Linked DNA regions of Homo sapiens: all the other regions are reported to be linked to region 1. Evidence: microRNA targets listed by miRTarBase, many of them from high-throughput screens and not tested one by one. Region 1 holds a microRNA gene; each other region holds the end of a gene's coding sequence.
Evidence for each region. Region 1 holds the annotated microRNA hsa-miR-223-3p (UGUCAGUUUGUCAAAUACCCCA, at 2,332-2,353, opposite strand). A microRNA usually pairs through its seed, bases 2 to 8, with sites in the 3' UTR of a target mRNA and lowers its output. Matches are read on the target gene's strand: a 7mer-m8 pairs with bases 2 to 8, a 7mer-A1 pairs with bases 2 to 7 and ends in A, and an 8mer does both.

Region 2: miRTarBase lists TOX as a target of hsa-miR-223-3p. Seed matches in the 3' UTR shown: 7mer-m8 at 5,271-5,277.
Region 3: miRTarBase lists SNX24 as a target of hsa-miR-223-3p. Seed matches in the 3' UTR shown: 7mer-A1 at 6,062-6,068 and 8mer at 5,713-5,720.

The regions. Positions count from the first base shown.
Region 1 is chrX:66,014,089-66,021,289 of GRCh38, reverse strand. It overlaps MIR223 (microRNA 223), which reads right to left and starts at 2,420; the gene lies at 2,311-2,420. MIR223HG (MIR223 host gene) reads right to left here and starts at 5,829. Exons shown (of 3, transcript NR_170299.1): 1 at 5,739-5,829; 2 at 4,101-4,225; 3 at 864-2,466.
Region 2 is chr8:58,801,911-58,809,111 of GRCh38, forward strand. It overlaps TOX (thymocyte selection associated high mobility group box), which reads right to left. Exons shown (of 9, transcript NM_014729.3): 8 at 6,208-6,359; 9 at 3,502-5,873. The coding sequence ends at 5,837. Among named protein-coding and RNA genes, the nearest start is that of NSMAF, 150 kb to the left of the region's middle. RefSeq lists an enhancer at 6,040-6,334.
Region 3 is chr5:123,007,156-123,014,356 of GRCh38, reverse strand. It overlaps SNX24 (sorting nexin 24), which reads right to left. Exons shown (of 7, transcript NM_014035.4): 7 at 5,152-6,675. The coding sequence ends at 6,608. LOC124901213 (small nucleolar RNA U13) reads left to right here and starts at 4,717; the gene lies at 4,717-4,815.

The DNA.
Region 1 (7,201 bases):
CTTCTTACAATGTGAGGTGGGGATAAGAGCAAGAAAGCCTTTCTCTTCAAGGAGGAATAGGGCTAGGAGTGTGTGTGTGTGTGTGTGTGTGTGTGTGCGCACGACAGAGAGAGAGAGAGAGAGTTTGTATGTGTACATAAGTTCCTACACCTTTAAATCAGGCTCCGCTGTGAGGACCTGTTCTGACCCAGGTTGACACAGTTTTATTTTCTCGATGTAATTAATGTCAAATCAACTTCTGCACTCTTCAAGGAAGCTGCCATGTTGCTATTTCTGGTTCCCATGCAGCCCCTAGGTCAGCTCATGTTTCACAAGGAGCTGCTCCCCTTTTGCAATGATTACAGAAGTCAAAATAGTACACGAAAGTAACAAAAAGGAGTCCTCCACTTCACCGCCACCCAACATGCCAAATCCAGGGTAAAAACCTCAACATTTTCCTCATTCCAGACGCTAGCTTCTCCTAGTTGGCGAAAGGAACAACTCTTTCTTCCCCATCGTGCTTACAAGCCTCTGAAATAGGGCCTCCACCCAGTGGAAACCCCAACTTCCTTCATGAAACAACTCTGCGTCCAGACCCTACAGCCTTTGAAAATACCCATTATCTTTCCCTACTACCCATAGAAAAAGTGAGTTTTAGGTGTTGGGAAGAGAATCCTGGTTGCATTTTCACTGGTAAAAGGAGCCACACATCCAGGGACGCTGCTCCATAAGAGCTAAGGACTCCCAGGGATATCTCAAAGTCATTAATCTTAAAGAGCCTAGAGATCACTGATTCTAATACTTCCGTATTGGAGATGAGAAAATGAAGCTCAGAGAGGAACAAAAACACAGTTAGTGGTAGAAAGGAGACCAAAAGTCAGGCCTGTGAACTCCTCAGTGCATATATTTATTGCAGCATCTGGATCTTCTTTGCCTCAAAACTTAGAATATTTTTAAATACAGGACAAGCTAGTAAAGAATTCCTATGTAATAAAGATAGTCCACAGCTGCAGAGGCTAAACAAAAATGAGATGATAACATGTGACCTTTCTTAGGCAGATGGCTGGTTGGGGAAAGTAGATGAATGAAAAGAGGAAAAGATCTCCAGAAGAGCGGGAAGGTATAAAGTTTCTCTAGGACAGTTTCCCAAATCGTGCTTCATTGGACATTGACACAGGAGAAGGCTGTGGGGGAAAAGAAAATTCATGATCAGATAGGTATGGCAAATGCCTCATTCTATGGTTTCCTCTTTGAGATTCTCAATGCAACATTAGACTATTAAAGGCTCTGAAAAATCCTACAAGAAAACACCTGTATAACCTTGTGTGACCAAGTAATACCAAAATTTATTTGCCCTCTGAGTCTGCTATTTTGCCCTCTTCCTCCAGCCCTTGACACTGTTTCTCAGGAAGAAAACATCCTTCATGCTGGCTACTACCTCATATGCTCTATAACATTGTGGTGTTCACAGTTTGAATTTTTCAAAATCCAGGGTAGAATTTGGCCCCCAAACCTAAAGCTAGTGGACAAGAGGAAAGTCAATCAATCAGTAAATATTTATTATTTTCTGTAACTAAAGTACTGGGCTGTGGTAGGGGAGACAACAATCAAAGACATAGCCTTGTCTTCCAGAAGCTCACAATCTAGTTGGGAATTCAAGAATACCCCTTAGAAAAGTTCATTGACAATTTACGAGGTGCTATTAGACAGTAGGAGAGAAAGGCATACATACCAGGGCCCAGGGAAGAAGAGCTTTGTGAATGAAGAAGGAAAAAGTGTAAGTTGACTTTCAAAAGTCTCTGGAAACACTGGACTTTAGCTGGTCCAGGAAATATAGGGAAGAATTGGATAGGCAGGAATAAATGGAGAAAGTGTTCCTACAGGAAAAGACATGTGGAAAAGGGGAGAGGTAGGCAAGATCAAGGAGTGTTTAGAAGGCAAGACTGAGTATCAAGAAAGTGAATTTCTAAGCCCTGCTTACTCAGATAAGCCATTAGGCTTGTGTGAGAATGCTGATGTCCTAGATAGGAGACTCTGGGAGGGGAATATGAAGGAAGAAAATAATAATGAATCAAAGAGCACTTCCATTCCTGGACACTTTATACATTTTCAAGACTATTGCGCCCCCATCAGCACTCTCATGGTGTGTGTAGACACAGCCCAGGGCTGTATTTCCCTGAGATGCCACACTTTTCCCCTGGTGTCCTCAGATATAATGCCTCAGTTCCTGCAAAGTCACATAAAATAACTTGTGAGAACTTGGTGCTTGGTGAGCATCCTTGTATCCAGCTGGCAGTCCATTCGTCATATCCCATCTGCCCTGGCCTAGAGCTGGTAAGCATGTGCCGCACTTGGGGTATTTGACAAACTGACACTCTACCACATGGAGTGTCCAACTCAGCTTGTCAAATACACGGAGCGTGGCACTGCAGGAGGCCAGGCCAAGAGCTTCTGTGGGGAAGTGAGATCTTCCTGGGAGATGTGACCCTAGAGGGAAAGAGAGAGAAAGGAATGATGAAGTCACACCCTTAGCCCCGGGGATCTTGCTCAAAGGACCAACCAAAGCACCAGAATAGGGAAGTGAGCAAAATAGGCATAGGGTTCCTAACCAGAAGAGAGATCCTGAAGATAAGCAGGTAAAGCCCGAGTGACACCCAGTGCTCAGCTGGAAGCTCATCAGGCCTGAGTCCTGTAGCTATGGCATTTCTAGGGGTCCCAAGCTTCAGTGGGTTCCTCTATGCAGCAGAGAGGGGAAAATTTGGTCATCATCCTGCCTCCCTGACTTGAGGAAAGTACCAGACCCTAGAGTCAGCATCCTTGCTCCCTCTTCTCAATTCTCCCAAGCTGTGTTTTCAGTGTTGTGGTTATGCACATAGGCTTTGAGGTTAAACATGAGCTTAAATCCTAGTTCTTCCATTAGCTAGTTAGGCAACCTTGGATACATCATTTCACCTCTCTGAGCTCAAGTTTTCTACACCCACAAAATGTATGTAAGTATAATACCTACCTCATAAGGTTATTGTGAGAATGACAGGAGATAATGCATGTAAAGCCTTTGGTTCAGTATTCAATACATAACAAATGCTCAAAAAGTAGTGGTTGTGTGACCAAAATGAAAGAAAGAGCTATTGGCAATTGATTTAGCAGGATCTGGACAGGTGTGACATTGATTTCTTGTGGTCTCAGCCTTGCCTAACATGATCCTCTTGTCCCATAGGGACTCAAGAATGGCAGCTATTAAAGTGCCCTTAAAGATCATCTAGTCTCACTCACTTAGGTTATAAATGAGATAACAAAGGCTCCTGTTGGGGAGGAGACTTGTAAAGTTTATACAATAAATTTTTTACAGTTCAGCAGTATGCCTTATACAGCTTTCCTCATTGGTTATTTTGCCTCCCTTCTCTGTATATCCCTCTGGGAAAGGGAAGACACATCAACAAAGAGGGCAAAAACAGGCAATAGCTTTGTAATGCAACATTTGGGATCACTGAACCCACAAGCCACCAGGGCAATAAGGAAGCTGCCAGGAGCAGGGTCAGGTCTGAAACTTCTGGGAGAATTCCCTTGGCAACAATCAGATCCTGTTGCTAAAAATCCCAGGTTGCTGGTGTCAAATTACTGCCCTTACCAGCTGTGGCAGTTGATCTGTGAGCAGGTAGCTGGTCTACATTAAATATTGTCATGAAAAGTGGCAAACATCACAAGGTTACCAGAAATGGTAAACTGCCCCCATGAGGCCGGAAAGCCCTGTCCCAGCCCAGGTAAGACAGAGGGATTCAGCCTTGTCTTTCAGCAAGAAAACAATCAGTGTCTTTTCTTGCTCTATTCTTTTAATTGAATGTTAAGAAGGTAACATACTCCTTCAATTTAAGTTCTGGCAGTCATCTCAAAACTAAAGCTCTTTCACTCCCTCACTTCCTTTTCTACCTACCCAATTCAGCCTAATCCACCCAGCAGCAAAAGCAGCAGTCATGGTCACCAAATATGGCATGACAGAATCGACAAACTTGTGTTCTAATGCTGTCTTGGCCATCAACTAGCCAATCATGGCTTGGGCAAGTCTTTCTTTGGGTTTCAGTTGTCTTCTCTGGAAATGAGAACAAGGAGACTTACCTACTTACCTGGCAAAGTTGTTGGAAAGTGTTGCTAAGCTTTCCAGAGCCTCCCACATAGGAGCTCAAAAGGACCTTGTCTCAGCCCCTGGACCTATGGTTGGAGGCCAGCCAAGCAAGCTGATTAACAGAGTCTGAGTTGGGGATGGCAGGAGAAAAAGAAATGGATTGTTACCTTTTTTGTATCATTACACTCATTGGCTGTCAGCTCCAGTAAGAAGACCTAGATAAGCTGGAGGTGTTCACAGCCTTTTGAATGCACTTTCTGACTTTATTCACCTCCAGAAAGGCTGGAAAGGAGGCATGAAAGGGGCTAAAAATTATTAGTACTTTGAAATTTGTGGAGCCTTATAGACAACATTGCTTCAGTATTAATGGAAGGAGTTAGTGGTTGAGCTGAAACTAGACTGGTATGCCTCTCCAATGGAGTGTATGTAAGAAAATCACATTCAGTTGAGAAATGTTCACCAGACCCATAGAAAGAAGACATAAATATCTATATGGGATGATATTAAGGGAATTTGAAAGCTCTTCTCTTGGTCTGTTATATTACTTAGAATAACATCATTTTTCCCCATATGAAATGCAAAATCCTCTACTGAAGAGCGTCATCAAGCCACTATTGTTGATGCAAAGGATGGGTCAGTTTTTATGGAGGGAATTGGAGGGAATAGACCAGAAGAATTAGGGGTAAGTAGGTGTCTAGGAATCTCTGAACACTCAGAGTGAGCCAAGTACCTGAAAGAAAAATAGAAGAAAAGAAGAAGTCCTCAGGACCATGCCTAAAAATCCCAGACTGCCTCTAGTATGAGCAGGACCTGTCCTGGGTCAGTTACAGGACAGGTCCTGCTGCTTGATGTCTCAGTCCTCCTAGGATAGAGCAAAAAGAGGACTGACCTGGGAGCCCAGACCCAGCTGTGCTACAGATTCTCTGTATGACTTTGGGCAAGTCCCTTTCTTCCTCTTTCTGGACCTCAGTTTCTTCCATATGTACCTAGTCTCTAAGAGTCTTTCAATTTTGAATCTCTAGGAGTCAAAGATTGGACTAGAAAAGAGGCTTTCATCTTTGAGTCATGCCTCTCAGAGAGTGCTATATGGATTACCACCAGCACTCTCCTCTTGAATGTGTTCAGCCCCACCCACAGTTACATATGCAAAGATTACTCTCATCTTCTTTCTTGACAGAGGGCTGACAATCATGAAAATTAGGAATCTAATAACCATGGGTCTCTAGACAGCATCTATCTAATCATTCTTTTCCTCTTTTTACTTTTTTATTTTGCAAAAGGGGTGAAAAAACTGTGTCCTAGATTGGAGAAAGGACTTACCCAAAGATACACATTGGGTAAATGGTAAAACCAGGACTGCTACTCAGGTTTCCTGACTCCTGGGTCCAAAGGCCATTCCACTTCCATGTGACTATCTCCTAAACATCCTGATTGGATAGAAAATATCCTATCCCCTTTTCCCCTCCATTAGAACCTCTAGGATAAAAGGCCAATGGAAGCCTTCTTCCTCCCACCTTTGACCTTAATCCCTGAGGAGGGTCTGAAGAGAATGGGATGGGCAGATCCAAGCCACCCTTGGCTGCCATGGACTCTGCCCCAGCTTGAGAATCCAAGAAGAGAGGGCAAATGGATACCATACCTGTCAGTGGAGTGGTGCCTTGGTCATGGAGGGGACTCTGATTCCCCAGTGCTGAGCCAACCTGCAGGGGCCAGATGGAATTGGGCTTTCTGCCGTGAGCAAGAAGCTTCTGTGTTTTGAAGGGCCCTTGGTGTCTTCAACAGGAAACAGAAATGAGGAAGATAAGACTGAGGTTAGCCAACGGAAATCTGGATGCAAAATGACAAAACAATGCTGTTGTGAAAGGGTCTGCTACTGCAGCAATAGTAGCAGGCCACTGCCCTGCCTCCACCAACTCCCAGCTGACCTTCAACAGACACTAACTTTCCAAGCTGCAGAGAGAGAGAGAGTAGAAAGCACCTGGCTGCCCTAGGCTCTGCCTGTGGGTCAAGGAGGTTTTCCCAGAATAATTGAGGGAAACCTGGAATACCAGAACTGAGACATTATCTAATGAAAAAACCCGTAGTCAAAATTGAGAAACAGAGCCTCTGAGGGATAAAAGGAAATACTCAGTATCACAAAGCAAATTAGTGGAAAGCTGAAATTTAAACCCATCCCCATGGACTCCAAATCACATGTTCTTTCACTCTGCCAGAATGCCTCCTGGTCCTGGAATACCATTTTACTTCCAACTTCTCTCCTGGCATACAGAACCAGCTACATAATTTGCAAGGCCCAGTAAAAAATGAAAACGATAGGCCCTTTATTTAAAAATTAAGAATATCAAGATGATGACAGCAGAACATTAAACTAAGTGTGGGGTCCTTCTAAGCATGGAGCCCTGTGAAGCTGTACAAGTCATATGCCTATGAAGCTGGCTCTGGGGCACAGTTATGACCACAAGCCACATTCTGTCATCTTGGGGCTTGCTGAAGGAAATAAATAAGGAAATTCACATTTATTGGAGTACTTATGATATTCTTTCATGTGTATTATCTAATTTATTCAACAACTCTCTGGTATGGTATTATTATTCTTATTTATAGGTGAGGAAACTGAGGCACACAGAAATAAAGTGACCTGTCTAAGGAAACAAAACTAGAAAATAATAGAGAAGGCAGATTTTTCACTCAGGTCTAACTCCAAATGTTGAGGTTTTCGTCTACTTTCCCACATTGGCTACAAGGAAGGGAGAAGAAAGTAGTTGACTTTGAGAAAGAAAAATTAGTGCCAGACCCCTAAGTTCAACTGTGACCTTCAGGCTAATGAGGGACATGAAAGGTGTGAAAAGAAGGTGGATGGTTTCTTAATGCCTCATGTTTGCAGTCTCCTGGAAGTCCCCACTAACAGCCAGGAAGATGATGAATTCCCATCATGCAGTGCCCTCCACCATGAATTCTGATGGCATGAAGGATGGGAGGGGCAATGCTTTCAGGTTATACTTTGATAGCTTTCAATGACTGCAGTGCCCAAGTCACAGTCCTCTGTCTACACTAGTGGAAGTATGGCCCTGAGTGATAGTCAAGCCGTGGTAAATAATCTTT
Region 2 (7,201 bases), not on the chromosome of region 1:
TTTCCCTGACAGCCTATCAGAGCAATTATGTTTGGGCTTATTGTAAACATACAATTGTCAAACAGGGACGCTCCAGACTTTAAAATACTGTAGTTTGGTTCATACTCTTTCTTTAGAATGGGATTTTTGTTTTCTCTGTAGTATCGTAAGTCTTTCCATTTTATTTTCTAGTCACTGTTCTTTTCTTCTGGCCTCATGTCAGTGTGAATAAAATTTCACTTTCAAATGTCTTTGCTAGCAAGCTGTTAATAAAATGTGAAATGATTCCTGCTGGTGGGCTTCATTAATTAGGCGCAACTCTGACCGTGCTGAACTATAACAGGTCATTGTTCTCAGTTGTCTCTCATCCGGGAACAAGAACTTCATCTTCACTTCTTCTCATCTACTACATTGCAGGCTGATGCTGGATACAAATGACAAGATGTTTGGCTAAGTATGAAATGAGAAGGCAAAGTCTAATCTCTCTGTGTACACGTAGATTGCCAAGTGTGTCTAACTTGGGTTTGAAGTTACCTCTTCCTCCCGCGGCTCCCAGCCTTCCTCCTCCGTGGTTGGTGAGGTTAGGGGGCTCCCCATCCCCTTTCTCCAAGCAATGGTCTTGTGTACAGATTTGGAGACTTTTTTTTTGTTAGGAAAGGTTTTCCACACTGGGAAATCGTTCCAAATAAAAGTAGAGAAATCGCCTTTGAAAATCCTAAAAAATAGAACCAGGAAATACAGTCTTTTCCTTGCTTCACCAAGTCATACTAACACTTGGTAATTAGAAAAAAAAAATTCAGTATCCTGTTCATCAATAGTTTAATTTAGAATCCATGAAACTTGTCTCCTGAATGTTCTCTCTTGTGTTTGACACCCTACATGTCTAGCACCTCTTTTCTCCCTTCTTATTTTCTTGGTGAGACTAGTGTGTATTAGATCTTTTACTTTTGTCACAAATAGAAAAGCTCTTGTTCAACTATGTAGGCCAAAAAAATATGGCATAACTCATTTTGAAATTCTTTCAATCTTTTTGTAACCCTAGGTTTTTAATGAAACATTTGCATCTTCACTCCTAATGCTTGCCTGTAATATTCAATTCCCATCTATATTTAAAGAGCCTTTAAATCATCAAGAAAACACCATACAATTCCTGTTGAGGATAATTGATGATGTTTTATTGATCTTTCTTTGTATCATTGCATTTTTTGTGCATCTACTGTGTGCTATGACATTCCAAATTGTTTTGGAGATAAGGAAATTGTTGAATTTCAGGCAGACAAAGAGATTTTTACCATGGGGTGACTCACATGAATTCAACCATTAAGTGGAAGGGTGACTTAGATTTAGAGGTTAAACTCATGATACGAATTTTTAACCTTGCCTTGCCACTATTTTAATATTTAATAATCAGCAAAAGAGATGAATTTTCTGTTTCTATCCTTCCTTGAAAATAACAATTATGGCTGGACACGGTGGCTCATGCTTGTAATCCCAGCACTTTTGGGAGGCTGAGGCACGTGGATCGCTTGAGCCCAGGAGTTCAAGACCAGCCTGGGCAACATGGCAAAACCCTGTCACTGCAAAATATAGAAAAAAATTAGCCAGGCGTGTTGGCATGCACCTGTGGTCCCAGCTACTTGGGAGGCTGAGGTGGGAGGATTGGTTGAGCCCGGGAGGTAGAGGTTGTGGTGAGCCAAGATTGTGCCACTGCACTCCAGCCTGGGTGACACAGTGAGGCCCTGTCTCCAGAAAAAAAAAAAAAAAAGAAATAAAAGAAAAAAAAAGAAAATGACAATTATGAGTGGAATAAGAAAATGTAGGTCAAATCTCTATTTAACGGATAAACATGAGGACGTCTATGTTTAACAAAAACTTTCTGTTCCAGCAGATAACCTATTTATTACAAATGTTCATATGAATTTTTTACTATAACAAAGAAATATGAATGGCTATTGGGATTTACTGGTAATTTAAAATATTCCTTGTTTAATATAACATACCTGTCTAGGACTCATTCTAAGTGGGGTACCTTGTAAACAAACATAATTGATTATTCCTTTGAGCATTTTCTCCCAGGACTTTGTAAAGTACTTCTAATTCCATTTGAAATTACATATCAAGTTATGGTCAAAACCCCATTGTCTCTAATTCCCACACCTTTTGGTTGAATCATATGAAATTACCATTTCATAGATAAAACAGGTCAAATATTAGCAATTTCATATGGTTCAGTCTAATCACTTTTCCAATGAGTGGGACAACTCTTTTGCAAAGGGCAAGAGATCCATAGAAAAGGGATTGGTTGTTGATGTGCTAATTTTAAGTCATGCATTCATAAGTTTAAGAAATATCTTAGTAATGAATCTGAGCCAGAGTATACATTGACCCTTGATTAACAAGGGTTTGAAGCAAGCAAGTCCACTTATGTGCAAATTTTCTTTCATCTCTGCCACATCTGAGACAGCGAGACTAACCCCCTTCTTCCTCCTCCTCCTCAGCCTATACAATATGAAGAAGAGGATGAAGACCTTTATGATAATCCACTTCCACTTATTGACACTAGTTAATAACTTATTTCTCTTCTTTATGATTTTCTTAATAACATTTTCTTTTCTCCAGCTTACTTTAAGAATACAGTATATAATACATAAAACATAGAAAATATGTGTCACTCAACTGATTATGTTATCAGTAAGGCTTCTCCTCAACAATAGGCTATTAGTAGTTAAGTTTTGCGGGGGTCAAAGTTGCATAGGCATTTTCAACTGCGTGGGTGTGGGGAGGAGTTGGTGCCCCGACCCCTGCATTGTTCGAGGGTTGACTGTATTGCTTTGGTGGCCACGGCTTCCCATGGACTGCTTGTGGTCCATGCAGACAGGCCTCTTTGCGTTTAACACAAATAATAAAAATAATCACAGAGACCAACTTCATCCTTGGCTATAATTTGACTAACTGGAAGTCATTATTTGACTCATTTTGCCTTATCAACTCGGTCACATTTGAATGGGAATCAGGATTTTTGAATTATTCTTTCTTAATCATTTCTCGATTATGTTAGAGACACAACTCAACCCACTCCTACACACTCTCGCAATTTTTTCTTTTTCTAATCAGCTATAATTTTGGTTTTGGTGTGTTGGTGAAGAAATCTGTCGTTCCACAGTGTTGCTGTTATCTCTCAGAATGACTTTACTGATGGTGCTGGAAATCTTCGGAGTGCTTCAGCAGAGAACTCGGCGTGCACCCCCACTGTTCCTCTCAGCTACAAGCTCCAAGCCGCTGGGCTACTGTGCCCAGGGTGGATTCTGGCTTTCTGAAAGATGGGGATTTCCTAGGCAACAGCTCACTATACTAGAGCCTCAGGTTAGTGAGAGGGCATTCTCAGAGTTTCAGGAAAGAACATTTGTGGCCATGGCGGCCATTAACCCCCACTCTGCCCGATCACTTCCACCATAAAATTTATTTGGGATTTCTCATCTGACTAGGCTTGCTTTTTAGAGACTGATGGATCACCAAATAGAATACGGTCACGCATAATAACAGTTTTATTGATGATGTGTTTTCTTTTATTTACATTTGTTTTTACTGTATTTGGTATTGAATTTCAACACTCTCTACCCTGGTCGCACAGCTGCTCTAGAAAAGCTGTAAACAACACGGCACTGTGCTTTCCTGCACAAACCGCCTGTCAAAGTCAAAGCTGCTCATTCTCCTCCCAGTAATTACCTTCTCAGTTTAGACTTAATGCAAGTGAAATTTTTACTTTATCATAATATAATAAATAAAAGACATTAGTTAATTAGTAGTGCTGGTATATTTCTAAAATACTAAACAGACAAACAATAAACTGTGAACTTAATCACATGAGTTCTTATACAGTTTCAAGACAGGAAAATTAGAGCTCTCAGCTACAGTCATTTTAATAATCACATGGATCTGCATTATTTATTAGTTATTACATGCTCAAGTGATTCAAGGTTGTACAATGCCTAAAATCATTCCAAAGCAAGCATACCTTTTGTCTGTTTAATTCTGAGTGGATTACACAATGCATATATTTGTATTTAGTTAAACTGCTAAATTTATTTCACATATTCCAAGAAAGAGACATCAGCCATTCTCTTGGTTTCCAACCAGACTAACTTTCTTGATATGATCCCCTAAAAAGGAGTAAATCTGCTAGCTTTTTCTTTTTTTAATGTGAAAGCTATGCAAGCCCTCAGGCAGATTCTCAAGCACTTTTGGTTCCCTAGCAAATCTCTGGTACCTTAAGAATCCTCTTGGAAGACCCAGGAATTCTGGAATGAGTAGTAGCTTGTAGAGGCACAAAAGACAGCAAGAATCTCAATTTCTATCAACAGCTTTCAAATTTGGATGGCTTTCCCTTTTCTTTTGCTATCTGGTTACTCACCTTTCATTTTTAGATGCTTCCCTTTCACTTCTTCCAGCCCCTAGTTCAATTCTTAAATGCTTTCTGGATTTTGTGAAAAGCATGCAGCTTGAGGAAGTTTGGTTTGACTTTTACTTTTTTGCGGGGGGCGGGGGGTGGTGGTTCAGAATTGACTAGAACCAGCTGAGAACCAAGAAGTAACCTTTTTAAGACAGAGGACCTGTCTGTTTGTTTAGTCTTGGAGCTTGTGTGACTTGGAGGGCAATTCTGTTATGTCGTATGAAGAAATAAAGTTCTTAAATATAATAGTTTTTTGTTTGCATCAACCAAAGAAATGCAGAAATAAGGACTGGTTACTTTAATTTGCTGCTAAATGAAAAGCAGGTTTGGCTTTATTCATGTTACTGTAAAAACTAAATAATAAAGTATTCACACCAAGCGTGAATTTTTTTTTGCCAGCAAAAGTTAAAACATCAAAGAAACCTCTTTCAAATACTAACAAATTTACTTACAAACACCTATATTTATTATTTCATAAATAGGCGCAACAGGTTCCATAAAAAAAGATTAAATACAGACACAGTATGAAGAAACAATAAGACAGAGCCATATGTAAAAGTTGTAATTTAGCTGTTTCCAATCTGTTTCTGCATCTAATAAAATACCAGGTAAGCATTTGGCAGTTTTATACATAAAAGGACTTAAATGACATTTACTAACCATTACACAAAAAGTGATACAAAAAAGCAATTTTTCTGCAGTACAAAATAAATGTGTTTGCGCTTCCCTTAATACTAGTTTCTTTTTGTCTGATCAATGAGACAAAGCCAATTTGTTTTTAAATTAAAATCACTTGGGAATACTTTTTATTTTCAAATATTTTGAAAATATAGAACTATCAGTCAGTTGTTTTAAAAATGAAGTAAAAATATGAATGTTTGCCAATTTAACCCCTATTGTGAAATCAATAAACTGGAATGAGCCAGTTTCAATTACAATTTAGCTACAAAAACATTCACATTTTATACTCTAGGAGAGTGTAACATAGATGCTATTTACAAACTTGCTATGACTGCTACATCAAGCCATTTAAAAAGTCTTTAGTAGTTTCATATAAACACCCATTATGAAAACCAATGGAAAATCCAGGACTTTTATCCGAGACATCTACAGTTGCTAAGGCAGTTACTAGAGCGCAGCACTTCACAGCAAAAAACCAACATAAAATCTGAATGGTCCAAATTTCCTTCAGGGAAGAAGAAAAACAATGTCCATAAAGGATTAAAAAAATAATAAAGAAGCATGACTATTTCTTCCAGAGTGGGTGACCCACAAGCTCAAATGGTCCTAAGTGCTTAGCAACTTGTATTTTCTAATAAAATGGAGAACTGCCTTGACTGTACAAAGCAATCCATGGTGAAAACACTTCCCTGAATTCCTCAGTGGAAAGAAGAGGTGTTCAGATTCTCAAGTAAGGTACAGTGCTTTGTCCCTCTGCATGCCCCTGTAGGAAGAGAAAAAAGACAGTTCCTTGTTACAGGACAACCTGTGCTACAGGTGACAATGGGGGGATGGATGTCTTTGAATTATTTGCTCCAGCTTGAGCTGTTCACTGGGAAACTGCAATTAGTTAACCTACATCTGAAGTGAGAAGTGAGCTAAAGGCATTTATTCTTGGAAGAGCTAGAAGACTGCTTAACAATTTCTGGTGTCTTCTGCCTTCATGAACGTGAAACTATCCCGGATCATGTTTTTGGAAACAAGAGAACGATCAACTAGGGACGATATGCATGCTATGAGCGCTGTCCACCACCAGGTGGCGATGACCGGCCGCTTACCCACTACTGCAGTAGTCGTTATTCCAGTCCACCGGTTGTGGGGGAGGATTTCTGCACCCCGAACGCACATACTCCATTGCCTGGGTGACAACTTGTGCAGCTGTAGATGTAGGATTGATAATAGTCTGATAGTCGGGTTGAAGAGTAAATCCCTGAAAGGGAAAGCAAGTCCGCAAATAAGGATCAAAATGCATTTTAAGAAGAAAAGCACCTAAATATTTATTCATTCTTTGCAGACACACTAGGCCTCTTGCTTCTGTCTCTGCAAGGGCAAGCCTGTCGGAAGAGCCCAGAAAATTTAAAACAAAGGTAGAAAAGAAATGCCCACAAGTCCATTCTTCTTACCTTTCCTTCATTTAGCCATGAGTCAGAAAACCTTTAATTATACCCTTGAGCAGATAAATTGAATTGAGAAACAATTTCAAATATAGAGGAGCCAACTCAATCAAAACAAAGGGAGAAGAGGGCCTAAACCCCTCAAAGTTTATGTTTTCTATCAAACCTAAGGATACATTAATAGTTAATCCCCAGAATATGCAACAGAATCTTTTTTGAAGGATTCAGGCAGCAGGTGGCTGAGTGTTTTATTAGACTACACCTATTCACATATTGTTCTCAAACCTCTTTTTCTTCATTCAGTCACAAAGGGACCATCTGCTTCTTCTTTTATTTGTATTTCTCTCTCAGCTAAAAAATTTCAACCAAAGCTTTTTAACAGTTGTTGGACTAATACAGGGAAAAGAGATTCAAAACGACTTGCCATTGGAAAACACGGGGAGGGAAAAGTGTACGACAGAGCAAATATTTTTTAATTGAAAAGTCTATTAACTGGCAAACAATAATCAGACTTCAGGAAGATTCTTCTAATACACTGGCATGGTGAAGTGTTGACTTTTAATCCTAGCGAAGCTATTAAAAATTCAAGGACAGAATCTCTGAAGTGTATAGCTATATCTGGTAAACAAAAAGCATTCTATACTAAGATTTATTTTTA
Region 3 (7,201 bases), not on the chromosome of region 1:
AAAAAAAAAAAAAAAAAAAAAAATCAGCTGGGCACAGTGGCGTGTGCCTGTAGTCCCAGCTACTTGGTACGCTGAGGTGGGATGATTGCTTGTTTCCAGGAGGTGGAGACTGCAGTAAGCCGAGATCATGCCACTGTACTCCAGCCTGGGCAACAGTGGGAGACCCCATCTCCAAAAAAGCACATAAATACAATTCTATTGTGAGGCTGATTAGGGACTGGATTCGCCCAAGCTTTATTAACTGGTATCCTTGGTCAAGCTATTTCACTTCTCTAAGCTTCCTTTTAATCACTTTAAATTGGAATAAGAATACACACATTTTTAAAGATGTTGTGAAGCTTCAATGAGATGGTCCATTAACATGATTTAGCCCAGTGCCTCTTGGCCCCTAAATTAGTATTCATTCATGTTAGCTACTATTTTTATTAATGTCTCTGATCTTCAATTTCTTCTTCAGTAAAATGGGGCACTAAAAACTACTCTGTAAAGAACTTAACGTGATAAAATATGCAAAACCCTAGTCCAACAATACATGACATCCAGTAGAAACTCAGTACATAGGAGTTCATAGGAGTATCTAAATGACATAGAATATTGTAGCTAGGGACACCAATGTCCTAGCTGTCACTGTAACTACTGTTAAGTGTAATGAAAACAGAAAATGGTTCACATTTTATAGGCCAGATTTACAACCACATTCTTAGGACACAAAATTTTCTTCTAGTAAATTAAGTGTATTCCAATGACTTAACATAGATAATATGCCCTCCTTCCCGTCACACAAAAATAGACCTTCACCCTCATCAGAATCCAGTCTGTCACTATGTATCTGCACAGACAGAAAACATAAACGTTGCAGACATTTTGGTTTTGAGTTACTGCCTGCTACTTCCCTGTGTTTCCGCTGCTGAATTCAAAATCTGTAATTATCATCAAGAATAAAAACCAAAACAAAGCCAAAATGAAAATAATTACTTGCAAGGAGTAGAGAGACTGGAAGAAGACAGCCTTAATCACTGAACTTTATGTCCAATTCATTAAGATGGAAAAACCCTTCCTAGTAAATGGCCAACAATTCCAGAAGGCAAGGATTACATCTGTATTCTTTAAGTAATTAACATAGTGCCTTAATCCAGTGGGGGGACCCAAATGCATTTCACTGAACAACTGAATGAATGAATATACAACTTCCCAATTATGTATAGTGCATCTATTGAGACCACTACCCAAACTTGTCCTTCCTGCTTCTTCAGGGTCTTTTCCTGTGACCTCATATAACAAACACCCCCAAGAGTTGAACAGATGTTCTCTTGGTACTGGATTCTGAAGGAGTTATGAAAGTCAATAAATAATTCAAGATGGCTAAAGGGTGGGTCATAAACCATCTCCATCAATTGGTGGTCCCTAATACAGGTGTGTATCAGAGTGAACTGGGTGGTGTTTCTAACTACCCAAGGACAGGTCTCTGGCCAGATTTATTGATTCAGAATCCCAAGTGATTCTGATGCAAATCTCTGGTTTAGAACTACTGTTTCAGGATTGTAGAGGTTGCCAGGGATGTGAGACTAGTAACTGGTATGTGTGCCAAAAGCTCTCCTGCACCCACGACAGACAGTGCTACCTGATCAGTACAGCCTTATTCTCTGAGCCTGCAGTCACTCAAAAGCCTTTATTGTTTTTATTGTGGTAAAATATACATGACATAAAATTTATTTTAACCATTTTTAGTGTACAATACTATGGCATTAAGTACATTACATTGTTAAGCAATGATCACCACCAGCCAGCTCCAGAATGTTTTCATCTTCCCCAGCTGAAACCTATTAAACACTAATTCTCCATTTCCTCTTTTCCCCCAGCCTCTGTCAACCAAAGTTCCACTTTCTGTCTCTATAAATTTGACTACGCTAGATACTTCATAGAAATGGAATCATACAGTATTTGCTTTTTTGTGACTGGCTTATGTCTCTGAATGTCTTCAAGGTTCATCTGTGTTGCAGCATGTGTCAGAATTTCCTTTTTATCCATTCATCCATTGCCGGACACTTGGGTTGTTTCCACCTTTTGGCTACTATGAATATATGCTATGAACATGAATATATGTATTAGTCCGTTCTCATGCTTCTATAAAGGACTGCCCGAGAGTGGGTAATTTATAAAGGAAAGAAGTTTAATTGACTTACAGTTCCACATGTCTGGGGAGGCCTCAGGAAACTTACAATCTTGGCAGAAGGGGAAGCAAACACATCCTTCTTCACATGATGGCAGGAAGGAGAGGTGCCAAGCAAAAGGGGGAAAAGCCCCTCATAAAACCATCAGATCTCACGAGCACTCACTCACTATCATAAGAACAGCAGCATGGGGGTAACTGCTCCCATGAGTCAATTACCTCCTGGCAGGTCCCTCTGACGACCTGTGGTGATTATGGGAACTAAGATTAATTCAAGATGAGATTTGGGTGGGGACACAGCCAAACCATATCATTATACAAATAGCTGTTTGAGTCCCTGCTTTCTTCTTTTAGGTATATATCCAGAAGTGGAAGTGCTGAATCACATAGCAATTCAATGCTTAATTTTTTGAAGAAGTTATACCATTTCCCACAGAGGCTGCAACCATTTCACACTTCCACCAGCAATGTACAGTTACAAGGGTTGCAATTTCTCCACCTCCTCACCAACACTTGTTATTTTCTGCTTTGATAGTAGCCATCCTCACAGGTGTGCCAGAATTCTTCTTGATGCAGCACTTCAAGCAGCCATTGTCAATCGATCAAAGTTGACAAATGAGATGAAAACCATCTGTTATTTCAAAAGTGTGATCATATTTCTCTAAACTGATTAAGAGAGCTCAACTTCTTTTCAATGGGAACTTATAACTGTAACTGTAGGATTTACCAGGTATTGATGGTCATGGTGATATTGGGGTTGTTCACATGGCTGATTGTAATGGGGGCAGTAACAAGGACACCAGGAGAAAGGACACGAGGGCTGCCAATATGCAGAATGAGTAGGCAGAGATGAGGCCTGAGAGGCACTGCATAAGGTAGCATCGAAGACAGTCCAGGCAAAACACCAAGTCCAGGAACCAGGCAGGACAAATGATGTCCCCACATCCTGACTTAAGTGGTAATGGGATTTTTTTTTTCCTTTTCCTTCCTCTGGTTTCCTTTCTCTGTCCTTTACTTCTCTATTGCCTGTGAATCCATGGTTTGAATGATTAAAGTTTTTGATATTTCCCCAAGTGCAGGGTTCCAAGCATGACTTGGAATACTATTAACACTGTGGTCCATGTGAATGACACTGCTTGGACTTGTGCAATGCACAACCTGTAGAGCAATATGGGCCAGGCATGCCTAGTGAAATCGAAAAGTAAAATGTCTATCAATATGGTAGTGGTTACACAAATTATAGAAGATCCATACAGCTTTTTTTTTTTAAAAAGAGAATAGCACTTTATATACTGATACAGAAAGATTGCCAAGATATTGTTAAATAAAAAAAAATAGAAAGCAATGGGTATTGCGTGCTACCATTTTTGTAAAAGAGGAGAAATTAAATATATGTACACTAAACATACAATATCTGCTTGTATGTAGATGAAATATTACTCAAAGTAGACACATTAAGTACAGACACATTAAGTACTCCCTTCTGTGGAACGGGAATTCGGTATTAGGAGATGAGATGGGAGACAAATTTATTTTTTATCTATAGTTTTATATATTTTTTATTAAATTTTCAACCATGGAAATGATGGAAATATGTTCTGGCTGGGCACGGTGGCTCATGCCTGTAATCCCAGCACTTTGGGAGGCCAAGGTGGTTGGATCACGAGGTCAGGAGTTCAAGACCAGCCTGGCCAAGATGGTGAAACACTGTCTCTACTAAAAATACAAAAATTAGCCAGGCGTGGTGGCATGCGCCTGTAATCCCAGCTGCCCAGGAGACTGAGGCAGAGAATGCTTGAACCCAGGAGGCAGAAGTTGCAGTGAGTTGAGATTGTGCCACTGCACTCCAGCCTGGGCAACAGAGCAAGACTCCGTCTTCAAAAAAAAAAAAAAAGTTCCATCATCTTTCCCATGTGCATTCCTGAGCTGTAGAAGGCTAGCAGCTTCTTCCCAGACTCCCTGCACCTGGGATGGAGAATAAGGTTCTACAAACTGGATGTGCGTTGAAGGGAGCTATGGAGTGGGAGGTGGGAGTGGGCGAATACCATCCTCCTGCCACTTTGGGCTGTGGTTGCTGGCAAGCAAGGCCACGGATGTTGATAGGCAATTGTGATGCAGGCCCAGTCACCAGCTTCCTGGGTGCTGCTATGAGGCCGCACCTCATAGAGAGATCGCCATTATATTTCCTGGGAGCTCCGTATCTCATGGAGATAACAGGTCCTTTTTGATTCTACTTGCTGATCCCTGGATTGCAGCTCTCATGCTGTTTACCTCAAGAGCTTCGCTCACAGCCCCCTAACTCCCTGTATTCCTGCTTACAGCACAGGCTGTAGCTCCCCAGGCAGGTCAGTGCTAGAAGTTGCTGGGGCATTCTGGAATTTGTTCTTGGACACCTACCAGGAGTGCACTCCTCTCACCCTTCCAACAGATTCTGTAAGCATTCAGTTTTCAGCATTATAGCCTTTTCTGCGTAAAAGACCTACACTGGTTTCTAGTTCCTTCAATAACCCTGACAGAATTACACATTAAAAGTTTAAATAGATATGATCCTTGTGTAGTGCATAAGTGTGATGACTGGGTTTTCCCACTCTTGTGAGGTGTGCCTCCTGCAAATCTTATGATGTCTGCATATGACTTGTTTGACATGGGAAATAAAATTTACATAAATATAAAAAGCGAAAGTCATCACTAAGAAAAAACTTAATTCTCAGAAAAGATTTCTTGGGCAGTGTACCACTATAGATACTTGGTTTTTTCAAAAAAATTCTTATTATCTTGGTAAATCATCAAATATTTAATGAACATCTACTGACTTAATAGATGAGATAATTTATTATAATAATTTATCTTATCATATTAGAAATAAACATCTATGTGAATGTGTGAGAGGTTTTGTGTGTGCACATATGTGTGTGTGTGTGTAAACAGACAGATACAAACCATGTTTCCAGTGAAATCTTAGGAGAAGACAAACTCAAATGTTTCCTTGTTCTGTTTTTATTTAACTCCAAATAGCTAATAACATAAAAACATTTTAAAAAAATCTCCAATACCCAACTATTACTTTTGGTTGACAACATTTGATTATTTAGTTCTTGCTTGTTTCCCACATGTAGTACAGAATCTATCATAATATTTTAAAAGTTTGCAGCAGGCTTAAAACCTGAATATTTAGATCCTAATCAAAAACCATGATGTAGTTATTAGTTTTGATTTTAAATACCTTGCTCCCACAGAACTTACTAAAACGAATAACCATAAATAGGCTAGCTATTAATTAGATCTCAATGAAATGCCCACATACAGCACATACATATAGGTAGTATATATGCTTTTATCCTTTACTACTCAAAGGATGATGTACAGTGGAGTTATATCATAAACACATTTAACTTACATTAACTCAACAAATGAGGTCAGTGAAAAGGAAGCCGTAAGGAAAATAACATGAAATCCTGTGGCGATCCCACCTAAAATGAATGCACACCCTTGAGTAAACCCAGGTGGGTGCTGTCCATCCGCTGGGTGGGCGCTTCACTCCTTGTCAGTTCACATCTGCCACTAGCGGGGCAAGCATCTTGCGGGCTGATTCTAGTGTTAAAAGTTATGTGCTTTTTTTTTTTTTTTTTTAACAAAATGGCCCCTAAACAAACACCAACAACTTCACTTGGTCTTCAAACAAAGAAACAGTCTTTTTTTCCAACATAGGAGGAAAAGCTACTTGTTGTGGATGTACAGGTTTCCAACATGGCACCCTTCTAAAGGGCTTTCAAGGATCATCCTAATAGCCCATTTTACCTATGTACTGACCTTGGAAGCTAACCCCTGAGTATGATGCAACTCCACTCTAATGTAAATTAAAATGCCATGATCTTAAAAATGCCATAATATTGTCAGTATAATTTAATTTCCAGTTTAGTTCCATCTTCACATTTAGCAGTGTGTGTCTGTGGCCGTCTCCTGGTGCCAGCATTTCAGAATGTACTATCACTGGCTGAGAAAATCTCACGGTGAGAAGAGTAGTGTGTCATAAGATCTGAACAAAAAAGCTACCAAAGTTGATCAGTCTCAGTATGATTCAGGATATGATTTTCAATTAGCAAATGGTGCGACTGAAGCAGAGAGTGGCTTTGTTTTGCTACACCCAGTGCTCCCAGGAATCTCCTGTGGCCTCCTTTTCATGGGTTTCTACGCTGGCAGCTACACTCTACTTCTTAAACACTTGGCCTTAGCCTGACCACCGCCCCGGTTCAGTTTCTATTTTTAAGAGCACCATTCTAATGGAAATGTCCCTGCCCTGAATTAAGCTGGGACTGTGCACTTTACCACTAGCTAGAGCTGTTATATATCATAGCGTTTAGGTTAAATTGGTAGGTATTGATTTCCTTGACTGTGACTTCGAAACTTGCTTCTGCTTCTTTTAGCCATGTAGGATTTCTACCTGGGCTGTAGATGAGGGTAAAATATCCCATGGAGGACTCCTTCAATAACCACATTTGGAAAATCTGAAAAAAAGAAAAAAAAAAAGAAAAAAAAAAGAAAAACTGCTTTTCTTATGTGAAACAAAATATAATTGCATTCTGTAGAATGGAACAAGGCAATGCTTACGGTAAACACAGGAATCTGCATCGCCAGGCATGTGCCTGGTTGAGGATGTGCTATCAGTCATGCTGCTTCAGCCTAAAGCCACTTGAGCACACCACCAGGCGCGGCAGGAATGTGCGGCCAGATTTGTAGCTTATTGATTTAAGGGATGTTCTAACAGTTAATGCTGCTAGGCCTCAGCTCTTTATCTGAATGTTTTCTCAAAAGGAAGATGGATTACACTGGCAATTCAATTTCTAACAAAATCTCAATATACTTGAAGGAATTCCAAGATTTCTACTGGGAATACCTCACTGCAGTTTTTCCATTGTGGTTTACAGTGCATTTAGTCCAAGTTGTCCTGAGTCTACTTGTTCCATTAGACTAGCTTCGAAAGAGAGCAGTAAGATGGGGGTCAGTCTTCCTAACTTAAAAGGGCAAATTTCC